Regions from separate parts of the Homo sapiens genome. Here region 2 is linked to region 1. The links come from fine-mapping of genetic effects on gene expression. Tissue or cell type: whole blood. Region 1 holds a variant in brackets; the other region holds the start of a gene. All regions are shown on one strand. Distances are between the middles of the regions.

Evidence for each region. PIP is the estimated chance that this variant, and not a neighbour inherited with it, causes the effect.
Region 2: TIMD4 starts here. The variant in region 1 is fine-mapped to the expression of TIMD4 in whole blood (TOPMed, PIP 0.98).

Annotation. Positions count from the first base shown.
Region 1 is chr5:157,045,748-157,053,857 of GRCh38, reverse strand. It overlaps HAVCR1 (hepatitis A virus cellular receptor 1), which reads left to right. Exons shown (of 9, transcript NM_001173393.3): 4 at 1,204-1,497; 5 at 4,713-4,820. Among named protein-coding and RNA genes, the nearest start is that of HAVCR1, 9.3 kb to the left of the region's middle. RefSeq lists an enhancer at 3,155-3,714. The variant A/C (reference allele first, on the strand shown) is at 3,469.
Region 2 is chr5:156,959,221-156,967,330 of GRCh38, reverse strand. TIMD4 (T cell immunoglobulin and mucin domain containing 4) reads left to right here and starts at 4,105. Exons shown (of 9, transcript NM_138379.3): 1 at 4,105-4,190. The coding sequence starts at 4,133.

The sequences.
Region 1 (8,110 bases):
TTCTCTGTCGCCCAGGCTGGGGTGCAGTGATGCGATCTCAGCTCACTGCAACCTCTGCCTCCTGGGTTCAAGCAATTCTCCTGCCTCGGCCTCCTGAGTAGCTGGGACTACAGGTGCGCACCACCATGCCTGGCTAATTTTTGTATTTTTAGTAAAGATGGGGTTTCATCATGTTGGCCAAGCTGGTCTCAAACTCCTGACCTCAGGCAGTCTACCCGCCTCGGCCTCCCAAAGTGCTGGGATTACAGGCGTGAGCTGCCGCGCCCGGCCGTTGCTGTTTCTTAATGAATCTTCTTCCACTAAGGTCTTACAATGATAATAGAACCCAATACCTACGACCTTAATAAGCTATGTCTCTATTTTCGTTTTAATTAAGAGGAATTTTAATTTGCAGTCTCTTAGCTTTTGGACTTGGATTGTTTCCCTTATAAGGGTGAGCAAGATGAGGTCAATTCTTTTTTTCTTTTTTTTTTTTAAGACAGGGTCTCGCTCTGTTTCTCAGGCTGGAGTGCAGTGGCCCAGTCTCTACTCACTGCAACCTCCACCTCTGGGGTTCATCAATCCTTATGCCTCAGCCTTTCAAGTAGCTGAGATTTCAGGCATGTGTCATCACACTTGACTATTTTTTGTAGAGATGGGGTTTCACCTGTTGCCCAGGCTGGTCTGGAACTCTGAACTCCTGAGCTGAAGTAGTCCACCCACCTTGGCCCCATAAAGTGCTGGGATTACAGGCGTGAGCCACCACGCCCAGTCTCTACAAAAAAAGTTTTTTTAAAAATTAGCCGGGTGTGGTGATGCCTGCATGTAGTCCCAGCTACTTGGGAAGCTGACACAGGAGGATTGCTTCAGCCTGGGAGTTCGAGGCAGCAGTGAGTTGATCATGCCACTGCAGTCCGGCCTGGATGACAGAGTGAGACCCTGCCCCCAAAAAAGTGCTTCAGTGCAAATATGAGGCGTCTGTTCTTATTTGCTGAATATGCATGCACCTTTCAATACATCTGCTTTTCTTTTGGAAGGAGGGGTATGTCTCCAAGGCCCTCTCCTGTCACAGTTTCTAGCTGGGCAATGACCAAGATTGACAGTTCAGGAAGTTAACTCCACCTAGGGACAGTCTGTCATTGGTGTGCTAGGGTACAGTTCCAGCCTGAGGCTCTTGTTTCTTGTTTGACTTATGCTCACTCTCATGTTGATTTCTGACTCCAGCCAAGGTCACGACTACTCCAATTGTCACAACTGTTCCAACCGTCACGACTGTTCGAACGAGCACCACTGTTCCAACGACAACGACTGTTCCAATGACGACTGTTCCAACGACAACTGTTCCAACAACAATGAGCATTCCAACGACAACGACTGTTCTGACGACAATGACTGTTTCAACGACAACGAGCGTTCCAACGACAACGAGCATTCCAACAACAACAAGTGTTCCAGTGACAACAACTGTCTCTACCTTTGTTCCTCCAATGCCTTTGCCCAGGCAGAACCATGAACCAGGTAAAACAGATGTGTTTGGAAGCCCAAAGGCCTTCTAATGAGGAGCTGCGGACCATCCAGGGCATTGTATCAAGGTAGAAGGACAGTCTAGAGTGAGGGGTCTTACCTGGGTTTCAATCAGGGTCTCCTCAGGGTTTGTGATCCTCCCCAACTCCCAAGTTGTATGCGTCTTTTGCACCAATGAGCATTTTTGGAGTGAGGGGACCCATTGCTTTTTGTCAATTCTCAAAGAAATTGATTATTAACCAAAAATAGCTGGACCACGGATGTAGAACATCTAACAGGGATACTGTGGATCTGACTCAGCTAGGTATGGCTTTATGATGAAAACACAGGGAATGCCAGAGAACCAAGGTCAGATAAATGAGATAGTGTCCTCACGAAGAGCTCTGAAGAGAGATCATTTAGTCCATTCTGAAAGCAGACCTTGATTTCAGAGAAGTTAACATTTACTGTTTTCTATCTACCAGGCACCATGCCTCATGCATTTAATTCTTAGGATAATTATATCCACTGTAGGTGTGGTTTATAATTGTTAGAACTGAGACAGAGTCTAAAAGTTCATTGTTGAAAGTTACACAGATAGAAGCCAGGTGCGGTGGCTCATGACTGTAATTTTAGCCGAGGAGTTCAAAACCAGCCTGGGCAACATAGTGAGAGACCTTGTCTCTACATGGTGGTGCATGCCTCTAGTCCCAGCCACTTGGGAGGCTGAGGTGGAGGAATCGCTTGGGGCCGGGAGGTCAAGTCTACAGTGAGCCATGATTGCACCACTGCACTCTAGCCTGGGTAACAGAGTGAAAAAGAAAGAAAAGAGAAAGAAAAAAGAAATTTACACAGATAGAAAGTGGTCGAGTCACGTTTTGATCTCTGTTAGCTTGAAATAGGGCCAGTACTTTTAACTACTGGATCATGCCTCCTATTATCAGCACTGAGTTTTATGTTTGGATGAGTTTGCCCTGATCTAACATTTTTACTGAAAAAAACCCTTAAACAACCACACTGTCTTTTCAGGGTAGTCAATGACTTACACATTTTTACTTCAAAGGTCCTTTAATTTATTTATGTACAGTGGAAATTGCAAAAGGTGTGATTTATACTTAGGAAAAAGTAACATTGGATTTAAGGGCTTTAGGGATTTAGAATGTACAGTTTATTTTTTTCAGTTCAGGCCATATAGTTGATACTTCAAATTCCCTGTAAATAAGACATTAGATTTAATACAAATAGAGGATAACTTGACTTATAGGTAGGGAAATAGCTTGTCATTCTGAGGACAAGTATAGGTTCAAATCTTCCATTTTCGGGATTTAAAAGATAACTTTTAGTGGAGATTCTCAAAGCCCTCAGAAATCCATTGACCCCTTAGGGTGGCTCTGGATTCTGAGGAGTAACAAATGTCGCAGCCTCTTAGCTGGAAAAATCTGATGGAACATATTGATTTCCCTTGACTGCCATTGAATTGTGTGTTTAACCAGGAGAGATCTGAAGGGTTGGGCTAGTAGCTCAGTTTGAAATAGAGGGTGTTAATTAGGTCATACCTGGGATTTTAGAGCCATAAAAGTTTTGTAAGAAAAACAGTTTTGTTCCAGGCAGCCGCACACACTAGAGAGTCTGTTAGACTTTCTCAATGTTGATTTCACTTTCTAATACTTAGCTTGTGTCTGCTAAGGTGGATGGATTAGTGGACTGGTTTTGGAGAACATCCCCAAGTCACTGATTTCATTTAAAGCCGAGATATGGGAGAAAGTTGCCTTTCTCCTAAGAGTTGGTTTATATGGCTATAACTTGGAGGATGGTATCACTTGAGGTTATTCTTATCTGGATAGTTCTCTAAAGAGTTTGCATGAGTTGAACATTACAGTCCAGGAATGAGAGAACCCTGGAGCAAATAGAACGCAGGGACATTTATCTTTGCATCCAATCTTCCCTGCTCAGTGCCCCTAGTACCTGCTTGCTGCCTAAAACTCC[A/C]GGGAACAATTGTATGTATGGTTGTAGGAGCAGTGGAGAAAAGAAAGATGCCATAAGGACCCAAACTTAGGAAAGAAGTTAAGCTCAAGAGATCTTTTGCACAGAACTCAATTGGGTACAGACTGCCCACGTGACTCTCCTGTGTTGTTCTGTTTTTCGTTCCGAAAGAGAGCCACATCCTCTTACAGGTTTGAGCACTAGAGGAAAACAGGAAAAAGTTGAGAACAGGAGAAAGAGCGATGTTGAAAAGTGAAGTTATTGAGACTGTGGTGGAGAAAGAGAAACAGACCAGTGAGAGGCAATAAGGAAAGCCAGGTTTGGGAATTCATCCAGTCACCGTCACTAATTGACTCTAAATTTCTGTGGTGCTCTAAGAGAAGGGAATCATGTAAATGCTTTGTGAAGAGGCAAGTGATCAACTTTGCAAATAAGGTGAGATATCTGATAGGAAATAAAGGAGGGATTTCAGGAAAGGAAAGGGGAATGTAGCCCTATGCTGGAGAATTCCTAATGGAAGCTTTACCGTGAGAAGTGTAAGATGAGTCAGAAAACACAGGAAATCACCCCTAAAGGAATGACTAGAATGCAGATGCAGAAGGAGCTGGGGTCAGGTCCTGCCAGGAACCTTACCTTTAGGGTTGTAAATCATTACCAAGGCTGACATTGGGCAATATTGTCAGCTTTAAGAGACCTCAAGGAATTAATATTGTATCTATTCTCTGTTAGTTATTAGATGTGTGGATAATTGAACTTGAGTAAGGCCAGGAAACCCAGAATGGGGCTGTTGTGAAGGGGGTAGGGCATGTTAGTGCAAATTCCTAAGCCCCCATTTTCTGAAAGTGAAATATCACTTGTATGAATAAAATAAAGCTTAATTGGGTATTCTACATAAAATGCCCTGTTGTTGGCTTTGTCTATTTAGAGGGAACCTGGGAGTATAGAAAGTTTGAGATAATCGTATATATTGACTATGTGGAACATTATCTAGATCGCATTTCCTCATGTTAATGAGATAATTAGATAGCAGGGCAATGCCTGAAGGCCATCTTTGAATACATTTCTAAGAGGAGCCGAAAGGTTCAGAAGTGGGTCGGTAGAAGCCCTGCATGCCCACTGTGGAAGGCCAGGAGAAGGGCCCATGGAAAGGTGATGGTAATTCCTGATTCTAGTTTTGTTCTTTATTTTTCTTGGGGTGCACATTTTCCTCCACAAATGGAACAATTCTTCCATTCTTTTCATTCCAGTAGCCACTTCACCATCTTCACCTCAGCCAGCAGAAACCCACCCTACGACACTGCAGGGAGCAATAAGGAGAGAACCCACCAGCTCACCATTGTACTCTTACACAACAGGTAACTGCGTTCTCTTTCCTGAAGACCTGGGATCATTCAAACCTTGATAACCATTGACTTTGTTGAGAGCACACGCTCTGGAATACGACTGATCTGAGTGCCAACACCAGGCACACAGATCAGTCATTTGACTTGTACAAATATCTACCCTTTCTGAATGTTTTGTCATTGGTGTGTGTGTGTGTGTGTGTGTTTTCTTTTTTTTTCTGAGATGGAGTCTCGCATTGTTGCCCAGGCTGGAGTGCAGTGGCACGATCTCGGCTCACTGCAAGCTCCGCCTCCCAGGTTCACGCCATTCTCCTGCCTCAGCCTCCCGAGTAGCTGGGACTACAGGCGCCCGCCACCACGCCCGGCTAATTTTTTGTATTTTTAGTAGAGTCGGGGTTTCACCGTCTTAGTCACGATTGTCTCGATCTCCTGACCTCGTGATCTGCCCGCCTCCACCTCCCAAAGTGCTGGGATTACAGGCATCAGCCACCGTGCCCAGCTGTTTTGTCATTTGTAAAAAGGATGTAATACCAAGATCTTGCAGAATGCTTGTGAGGATCAAATGGGATGAAAGATTTGGGACATGGTTACAGGGGGTAAGTGATAAATATAATAGCAGCTATTATTATTATTCCTTAGAACATCAAGAATCCAAATGCCTGACTGCACAGATAGCTTATGTGATTTGGAAACATCCACATGCATATTACCTTGTTTTTAGAAATCAAATCAACCAGTCTTGAATCTGAACATATTATTTTGACTTGATTCCTTGGGCCAGGGCCTTAAAACAATTAAATCCAGCCCTCTGATGTTTAGCTCAAACACCAGACCCTATGCTTCTGACAAGTCCCAGACCCCAAAAAGTACCAGGAGGCTTCCACTGATTCATCAAATTTGTATTTACATGAGCATTCTCAGATGGGGCTATGATTTGAATGTTTGTGTCCTCGCTATTAAGGGAAACTCCCAAACTGGGTTTTCTGTCTCTTCTCACACCACGTCAACAACAATCATCAACTCAGATGAAGACTTCTGTGACCGAATGTGTGGAGTTTTTTCCCCATACATCAAGCAGTGGACACCGGCTGTGTCTTTAATTCAGTTCTTACACTGTCTACCCGGAGAGAGGGTCATATCCCACAGGTAAGGGGCTCAGTCCCCAAGACTGCCCCTCCCAACCCCACCACACACACCAGTCACAAGTTCGGGTCTCTGGAACTTCTGAGCGGCCAGTTTCAAGTTGGGGTTCCCACAACCCTCTCTTTGGGTTCTATTAATTTCCTGGAGTGGCTTCCAGAACTCAGGGAAACACTTATGTTTACCAGATAATTATAAAGGATATTGCAAAGGATACTGATGATGAGATGCACAGGATGAGGTATATGGGAAAGGGTTCCATGCTCTTCCTTGGGAACTTCACCTTCTAGGAACCTCCAAGTGTTTGACTATCTGGAAGCTCTCAAAACCTAGTCTTCTTGTACTTTTTTTTTTTTTGAGACGGAGTCTTGCTCTGTCATCACCCAGGCTAGAGGGCAGTGACATGATCTTGGCTCACTGCAACCTCTGCTCCCAAGTTCAAGCAATTCTCCTGCCTCAGCTTTCCAAGTAGCTGGGATTACACGTATGCGTCATCCTGCCCGGCTAATTTTGTATTTTTAGTAGAGATGGGGTTTCATCATGTTGTCCAGGCTGGTCTTGAACTCCTGACCTCAGGTGATCTGCCCACCTCAGCCTTCCAAAGTGTTGAGATTACAGGCGTGAGCCACCGCACCCAGGCCTTTTGGGTTTTTATGGAAACTTCAAGACATCAACATTCCATCCCCCAGGGGCACAGGGAAGGACTCTCTCTGGGAAGTGTCTTATGACCCACAATCAGAAAGGCGGGGGAAATTAAAGTTCTGCCTTGTCAGGTGAAAGGAGAGCAGGAGAAAGTCCAATATTGTTTCCTGAGGTCAAACATACTTACCATGATAAGAAAAGACTATAATCAGGGATATGGGAGTTATGAGCCAGGAACCATGCACAGACCTCTATCTATCTATATATGTATGTATAATCTCATAACACCACACCCCTAAATTCATGTTGATAGATAATTCCCAAATTCATGTTGATAGCTAATTCCCAATGCAAGTATTAAGAGCTGGGGCCTTCGGAGCATGATTAGGTCATGAGAGCCCCGCCTTCATGAATGGAATCAATGCTCTTATAAAAGGCCCAAGTTACATTTTCTGGATGGGAGAGAAACAATAAATTAATTAGTTAAACAAAAAGAGGCCCAAGGGAACTTGTTTGACCCTTCCCCCATATAAGAACAAATAGAAGACACCATCTATAGGAAAGAGGACCCTCACTAGATTGAGTAATCAGCCTGTGCCTTGATCTTGGACTACCCAGCCTCGAACTGTGAGCAATAAATTTCTGTTTAAATTACCCAATCTAAGCTATCTTATCATAGCAGCCTGAACAGACTAAGACAGATGAGTTGAGGACACCCACACCAACATCAAAGAGGCATGACCCTCTGAGATCCTGCTACTCTGCTCCAAACAATCCTTACTATTCTTTCAAGTCTGAACAGGCCTCTTAGAGTCTCTGCTCCTTGGAAGTGTAGAATTGACCTGTCTTTCCTTGTGATGGAGAAAGTTGATGCTGAAACCTGTCATCTTTCCCAGCTAACTCTCCTTGTTTCCCTTAGTGGTAAGCTCTGGGAGTGCCCTGTGCTGAGCTCCTCTGTGATGCTGAGCTGGCTCTGTGTCCTTGTGTGGCATCCAAGCAAGGTCACACCTTGCAGGCCTCCTTGTGTGTATGACTCATTGTACTCAGCTGTTGCCAATCTGTAGGCAGCTGCTCCCCAGCCTACATGGCCTACTTTTTTTGCCAATCATTCCTGGTAGCTGGTTAATTTAAAATGGACCTGCAGTGTGATTCACAGAGGGACTCATTCAACTGGGATTAGATAATGGCGACATTTCGTTTTGAAAGTGTAATCCTCAGCGCAAACTGTTTCCAGGCACAAAAGCAAAATGAAAATAGATAAAAACACAACGTAACAGTGGTAGGAGCAGCTGCACCCCACTCTTTGAGAGTGTAAGGAGGAAGAAAGTAGGAGTGGGGAATCATTCTCCGAAATACTATGTCAGTGAAACCTGGTCAAAGTAGAGTTTTCCAGGTGGAACAGACAGTGGAGCAGCTGTATCCCCAGGATTTGTGTGGCTGCTGCCATTTTGGCCGTGGATCCAAGGCTCTTGGGCCAAGTTCTTACTGTGCCTGGGTTGGCCCTCAGTTGCCTAAAGCCC
Region 2 (8,110 bases), 87 kb after region 1:
CTCATTTTTTGTTTGTTTGTTTGTTTGTTTGTTATTTTGAGACGGAGTCTCGCTCTGTCACCCCAGCTGGAGTGCAGTGGCATGATCTTGACTCACTGCAACCACCACCTCCCTGGTTCAAGGGATTCTCCCACCTCAGCCTCCCAAGTAACTGGGATTACAGGCATGTGCCACTGCACTCAGCAACTTTTTGTATTTTTGGTAGAGATGGGGTTTCTCCATGTTGGCCAGGCTGGTCTGGAACTCCTGACCTCAAGTGATCCAACTGCCTCTGCCTCCCAAAGTGCTGGGATTACAGGCGTGAGCCACTGCACCCAGCCTTCATTGTGTTTTTTTCTTAATTTCCCAAGTATCCATCAAAAATTCATCCCATGGCTGTGGGCAGTGGCTCATGCCTATAATCCCAGCACTTTGGGAGGCTGAGATGGGAGGATCACTTGAGACCAGGAGTTTGAGACCAGCCTGGGCAACATGGCAAGACCCTGCCTCTACAAAAATTTAAACAAATTAGCTGGGTGTGGAGGCACACCTGTGGTTCCAGCTACTTGGGAGACTGGGGCAACAGGATTGCTTGAGCCTGGAGGTTGAGGCTTTACTAAGCCATGTTCATACCAGTGCACTCCGGTCTGGGCAACAGAGCAAGACCCTGTCTCAAAAAAAAAAAAAAAAAAATTCATCCCAAGTATTCCATCATATCTGCCAAACACCTATCAAAGTTATTTTCAAATTACCTAAGTACATGAGCTTATTCGTGACACTCACTACCACCACCCCAAGGCTTATTCCTCTGCTCTTCTGCCCCAGCCTGAGGTGGTTATTAAAGTAATTATTCTCCAAAGATGCTTCCCCTACCACTCCAATGAACCACACTTCCTCGCATTCACATCCTTGTATTGCTCCCTCCACTTGAATTCTCTGGGATGGCCTTATAATTTGCCTTTTGACCAATAAAATACTGTAAAAATGATACTGAATGTTACCTAAGGCTAGGTCATAAGAACCTTTGTGGATTATTCCTGAGCATGTTGGAATGCTAATTTTTGAGAAAGCCAGATCCTATGTAAAAAATCCAACTACTCTGAGACCACCATACTGTAAGGAAGCCCAAGCTTCCATGTAGAAAGGTCATGTGGAGAGAGACAGTTGTCAGTCCAGCCCCTATCTCTTCTAGTCATTCTATTAATTTGCTAGACATACAAGTCCAGCTAGAAGTGTCATTTTGGATGATCAGTCATGTGAGTGAGAAAGTTATCTTGGACAAATAGTCCAATCTAGTCTTGAGATAGCCACTGTCACTGGGTGAGAGCTACCCAGCTGAACACTGTCATCCCAGGGAATCATGAAAAGTACATTGACATTGTTCAGGCACTAGGTTTTGGGGTGGTTTGTGATGCAGTGAAACAGTTCCCCTCTAGGTCTGTTCTGCAGTTTTCTTTGTGAAATTTTTCTTCCCTGGAGTTAGATGTCATGTTTTCTGGACCCCATGACTTTCTGTTTCCTGGTTATTTCTCCCGTTTTGCTACAGATTTCTCTTCCATAACTTCTAGGAAAGGAAGTATAGTAAGTAAATTTTGAATCTATGTCCAAAAAGGCCTTTATTATGATCTTACATTTGAGAAATAGATTGTCTGCGAGTAGGATTCTAGGTTGAAATTAAATTTCTCCTCTGGATTTTTTTTTTTTTTTTTGGACACAGGTTCTCTGTCTGTTTTCCAGGCTGGAGTGCAGTGGCACAATCTCAGCTCACTACAACCTTCACCTCCCGGGCTCAAGCAATCCTCCCACCTCAGCCTCTGGAGTAGCTAGGACCACAGGTGCGCATCACCACACTCGGCCAATTTTTTGTATTTTTGGCAGATATAGATTTTCTTTTCCTCTTTTTTTTTTTTTTTTTGATGGAGTCTCCTTCTGTCACCCAGGCTGGAGTGCAGTAGCATGATCTCAGCTCACTGCAACATCTGCCTCCTGGGTTCAAGTGATTCTCCTGCCTCAGCCTCCCAAGTAGCTAGGATTACAGGCATGCACCACCACACCCAGCTAATTTTTGTATTTTTAGTAGCGACCAGTTTTGCCATGTTGCTGGGACTTGTCTTGAACTCCTGACCTCAAATGATCTGCCCGTCTTGGCCTCCCAAAGTGCTGGGATTACAGGCGTGAGCCGCCACGCCCGGCTGATACAGGTTTTTACCATGTTGCCCAGGCTATTCTGGAACTCCTGGACTCAAGTGATCCACCCACTTTGGCCTCTTAAAATGCTGGGATTACAGATGTGAGCCACCACACTCGGCCTTCCCTCTGAATTTTGAAGGCATTCGTGCATTATTTTCTAGCTTTGTTGTTTGGAACAACAATGCCATTCTATTTCCAAATCCATTCAGTGCAATATGTTGTTCTTTCTCTCTGGAGTCTTTTCGTATCTTTTCTTTATGTCTGATGTTCTCATATTACATGATAATGTCTTGCTTTTTGGGGATATTTTTATTCATTGAGTTTAGCATTTGATTGACCCGCTCAATACTGAGAGTCATCTCCTTTAGTTACGAGAGTCTTTCCTTTATTATTTCTTTAGTAATTTCCTCTCCTCTATTTTCTTTTTTAATGTTCTGAAACAATCCTAGTCCTTTGACTTTGTAGATGGTTATAATTTCTAACAAATTTTCTTAACTTTATTTTTCAAAACTTCCATAAAATTCGGGACATTTTTATAATGTCTATGTTCTTTTTCATGAATGTAAAATCTTTCTTTCTGAGAAAATATTAGCTTTTTAAAAAGTTTTTGAAGTTCTCTTTAGCTCTCCCTGTTATTTTTGTCTCTTTTTTATGTTAAATGCTTTCCTCAAATGTCTGATGATCCCTGGTTATCTGTTCATATCTGAAAGGGACACTAAAGACTCATTAACAGTTCTGCATGCATGGCTGAGGCTCATGCACTGATGAACTTATTGAAGGAGGGTTGAGTGGTTTTGTTGGGGAACACTCAAAACTATAAATATCTGAAAATGTTTTATTGGGACCACTTAGTTTATCCAGAGATTAAATCCTCCAGTTTCCTGGGATAGAATGGGGAAAGGATCCCTTGGTTCTGTGGGCATTCAGTGGGAAGATTCACTCTGAATCCCGTTATTTTCATCCCTGCTCATGTTAGTCTGGCTTCTCTGGGTCTAGAACCTCACCTGATATTTAGATTTTTCACTGATACCTTCAGTAGAAGCAATGTTGAATGTTTGAGGTTTGCTGGCTGTTTACAATCAATTAAGGATTTTTAAAAATCTAGAACATTTGTGAATTCTTATATTTTCTTCCTGGTACTAAGTAGGAGCTAGCCACAGGTAGGCCTCATCATATGGATACATTACCCAAACGGTCACAGGTCAAAGGACAATGTAGTGATTAACCATAAGCTTTGGAATCAGGAAGTTCTGGGCTTCAGTGTCTTCCTAAAACTTAAAAAAAAATTTAATTTTTTTATTAAACTTTTTTTTAAATAAAAAATTGAGATGGGGTTTCGCCATGTTGATCAGGCTGGTCTCAAACTCCTGGCCTCAAGCGATCCTCCCATCTCGGCCTCCCTAAGTGCTAGGATTACAGGTGTGAGCCACTGTGCCTGTCCTCACTTTTCTTTCTCCATTATTAGGGCAAGGAGGCCAGGGGACAGGGTGAGGGAGAACCTAGAATGGGAATGGAGGCAACTTTCAGTCTAACTATGCTTTGGCCCCATGAGGAATCTACATGTAAACACTTGCCAGTATGGAGAGTCAATTGCACTTTGTGACAGGCTGTACAGCAGTTGGGACAACTGTGGCACATGCACAGGTTATACAGGCATATTTGCACCAGCACATGCATGGATGCTTGTGCACATATAGGAAACCCACTATACACATGGACAAAGAAGCACAAGTATGTCCACGCCATCCCTCCACACACACACTAGTCACCAGGAGAAAAGGGCTCAGCACATTTCATCATGCATCGCCCATTGGGGGAAGCCATGTAGGACAGGAGAAAGGGAAGATTATGAGGCAAAAAGAGAAATGAAACTAAAGAGTCCCACCCTGTCAGCATTAACTGGGATATAAGAGGTTGGGCTTTGGATAGATAGACAGACTCCTGGGTCCGGTCAACCGTCAAAATGTCCAAAGAACCTCTCATTCTCTGGCTGATGATTGAGTTTTGGTGGCTTTACCTGAGTAAGTGTTCTGAAACCTTCTATGTAGAAGTTTCCAGAGGACTTGCTATTGTGTGATGGATTTCCATGCACTGGTTTGGGCCTCAGTGAAGCAGAAGCTCACTTCATTTCTGCATCCCTCCCCTCTCCCTACCAGGCTTCCTTCTGTGGAGGGTCTCTGTCCTGCCTTGTTACACAGAGGTTTATCCAGAGACTGGTCTGGGGGTTTTAGGCTGGGGTAATTTGGGCTTATATTGGAAACAGCAACTGAAGAAGAGACACAGAAATAAGTGGTCAGATAAATTGGGGAAAAGAGATTTCCTCTATGGGTGTTATTCATATAATCAATAAGCCAGGAGAATTTGTTCTGGTGAGAATTGTGATAATTCTTATCATTCCCTCTGTTTTTAGAAGTGTTTGCTTTTTGTTTTGTTTTGCTGGGGTGAGGCTTTATGTAAGGTTTCTTTTCTGCACGTTGTTTTTGGGTTTTGGATGATGCAAGTGTACACACTCAGTTTTGGCCAGTGAAGTTCTTTGCATCCTGGTGGTATAGAGCCAAGTGTTCTGGCCTGAGCTGCAGCTGCGTCTCGGGCACTAACTGTTGACACTGGGAATATGTCTAAATTGCTCTGGCTCTCCCATATTTGAAATGAGAGACCTGGCTTTTTAAATGACCAGTTGTCACAATCTGTGCTTCTAGGACAAGATAATATTGAATGGCCCTTGCAGTTTTACAAAAGTCCATTTTTTTTTTAAATGGATACAAAATAACTATACATATTTATGGGCTACATATGTGTTATTTTGATATATACATACAATGTACAATGATCGAATCAGGGTAGTTGGGATATTCATTTCTTGAAACATTTAAATTTCTTTGTGCTGAGAACATTTCAAATGTTCTCTTCTAGTTATTTTGAAATACACAAGAAATTATTAATAACAATAGGCACCCCACTATGCTATCAAACACTAGGACTTATTCCTTCTATTTAATTGTATTTTTTCCCTTTTTCCTCATGTTCTAACTAACTGTATTTTTGTACCCATTAACCTGCCTTTCTTCATACCCCTTTTCCCCTATCCTTTGTAGACTCCAGTGACTATCATTCTATTCTCCACTTTCATGAGATCAACTTTTTTAGCTCTCATGTATGAGTGGGAACATGCAATATTTGTCTTTCTGTGCCTAGCTTAACTTAACACAATATTAATAAACTCTGTTTCCATCCATGTTGTTGCAAATGACTGAGTTTCATTCTTTTTTTATGGCTGAATATTCTACTGTGTTTATATACCACATTTTCTTTTTTTTTTTCTTTCTTTTTTTTTTTTTTTTTTTTTTTTTTTTGAGACGGAGTCTCGCTCTTTTGCCTAGGCCGGACTGCAGTGGCACTATCTCTATCTCGGCTCACTGCAAGCTCTGCCTCCTGGGTCCACGCCATTCTCCTGCCTCAGCCTCCCAAGTAGCTGGGACTATGGGCGCCTGCCACCATGCCTGGCTAATTTTTGTATTTTTAGTAGAGACGGGGTTTCACCATATTGGTCAGGCTGGTCTTGAACTCCTGACCTCAGGCGATCCACTCACCTCGGCCTCCCAAAGTGCTGGGCTTATAGGCGTGAGTCACCGCACCTGGCCATATACCACATTTTCTTTATCCATTCATCCATTGATGGACACGTAGGTTGCTTCTATATCTTGGCTATCGTGCATAGTGCTGTAATAAACATGGGAGAGTAAATATCTCTTTAATTGATTTCCTTTCTTTGGGATATATCCCCAGTAGTGGGATTGTTGGATCATATGGTAATTCTATTTTTAGTTTTTTAAGGAATCACCATACTGTTTCCCATAATGGCTGTAGTAATTTACATTCCCACCAACAGCGTACGAGAGTTCCTCTTTCTTTGCGTCCTCGCCAGCAATGCTTGCTTTTTGTCTTTTTGATAGTAGCCATTTTATCAGAAATGAAGTGATACCTCATTGTGGTTTGGATTTGCATTTCCCCAGTGATTAGCAATGTTAAACATTTTTTCTTCTACCTCTTGGCTCTTTGTATGTGCAGAAACCTTTCCAACATGGTGCATGAGAAAACACCCATATTTGAAGGAAAACAAATGTGTTTCATCACCTCTCAAACTTGTACTATTCTCTCTGCCTTTCTTTCCTCCGTAGTGCCATGCATCCTCAGGTCCCTACTTAATTCAGGCTTTTCCTGGCTACCTTGTAGCCTCTGGAATAGTTCAGGTGTTTCTGCTATGAGTTCGCATCCTCCTTGGAGTTCCTGCATCTGTAAACTTGTCACTCTATAGCAAATGCTCACTCATTTGACTATCTTCCTAGGTACTCTGCAGGCCCCATGAGGGCAGCCCAGGTCTGCTTTGTGGCTTGTTATATTCCAGCACCTAGTTCCACCCTTGATACATTATAGGCACTGAAGAAACAATCTACAGGCCAGGGGTGGTGGCTCATGCCTATAATCCTGGCATTTTGGGAGGCCGAGGTTGGTGGATCACCCGAGGTCAGGAATTTGTGACCAGCCTGGCCAACATGGTGAAACCCCGTCTCTACTAAAAATATAAAAATTAGCCAGGCGTGGTGACATGTGCCTGTAATCCCAGCTACTCAGGAGGCTGAGGCAGGAGAATCGCTTGAACTAGAGAGGCAGAGGTTGCAGTGAGCCGAGATTGCACCACTGCACTCCAGCCTGGGTGACAGAGTGAGACTCTTTCTGAAAAAAAAAAAAAAAAAAAGGGGGAAGAAAAAAACAATCTACAGAATGAAAGCAGTCCCTGTCACTTTCACACTTATATTTTGGGTTTGGTATGGGTTTGTTTGGATGTAAGAAAGCTACCATCTGCCTTTTCATCAATTTTTTTTTACTGTCTTTGTCTTATCCTGGAAACTTGAAGTTTGGAAGGTTTTGTTAGGTTGAAAGTTGCAGGGGTCTATGTCTACATGTCCTGCTACTAGCAAGACACTGGTTGAGGGGAATTTTCTAATCCTGCTTGAAGGAGGCAGCACCTGGTGAGCTGTTTTTTGTTTTATTTTGTTTTTTTTTTCATAGGTGCCTTTTCTTTTTTCTTTTGTTTTTCAAAATATTTTTGGGTTTTTTCGAGACAGAGTCTCACTCCAATGCCCAGGCTGGAGTGCAATGGTGCAATCTCGGCTCACTGCAACTTCTGCCTCCCAGGCTCAAGCAATTCTCCTGCCCCAGCCTCCCAAGTAGCTGAGATTGCAGGCGCCCGCCACCACAGCTGGCTAATTTTTTGTATTTTTTAGTAGAGACAGGGTTTCACCATATTTGGCCAGGCTGGTCTTGAACTCCTGACCTCAGGTGATCCACCTGTATCAGCCTCCCAAAGTGCTGGGATTACAGGTGTGAGCCACCACACCCGGCCTATATGTGCCTTTTCTAAGATAACCAAATTAAAAGAGAGTGACTGCTCAGAATCACCAAGGATCAGAGCTGGATGTACTCTTAAAAGATGCCCTTCACTCTGTAGATGGCAATTTTGAGACTCAGATTGGGGAAGGGCCAGCCTTGCTTAAGCTCACCAGCTATGGAAGGAACCAAGCTGGCATAAGGACCTAGGTTGTATCCACCATTCCAGGTAGCTCCACAGAAGTGAAACTGGTTTGATACCAACAATTGCTTTACTCAGGGATACTTTTACAACAGACAGGAACCATTTTTTTTTGTCTTATTTCTAAATTCTAATGTCCTTTGTTACGCGTATTAATACTTTGTTAATTTCACGTGGCATTTGTTACTCCTCTTCAAGTGGAGCTCAGAACCATTTCTGAGGTGAGTATTATCCCCTTTGCCTTGTGATGATAATGAGGTCAGGATTATCATGGCTTTCCTCCAACAACACAAAAGCAGTAAATGGCAGAATGGGGTTTACAATGTGAGCTTAATGGATGTTGTTCCTGCC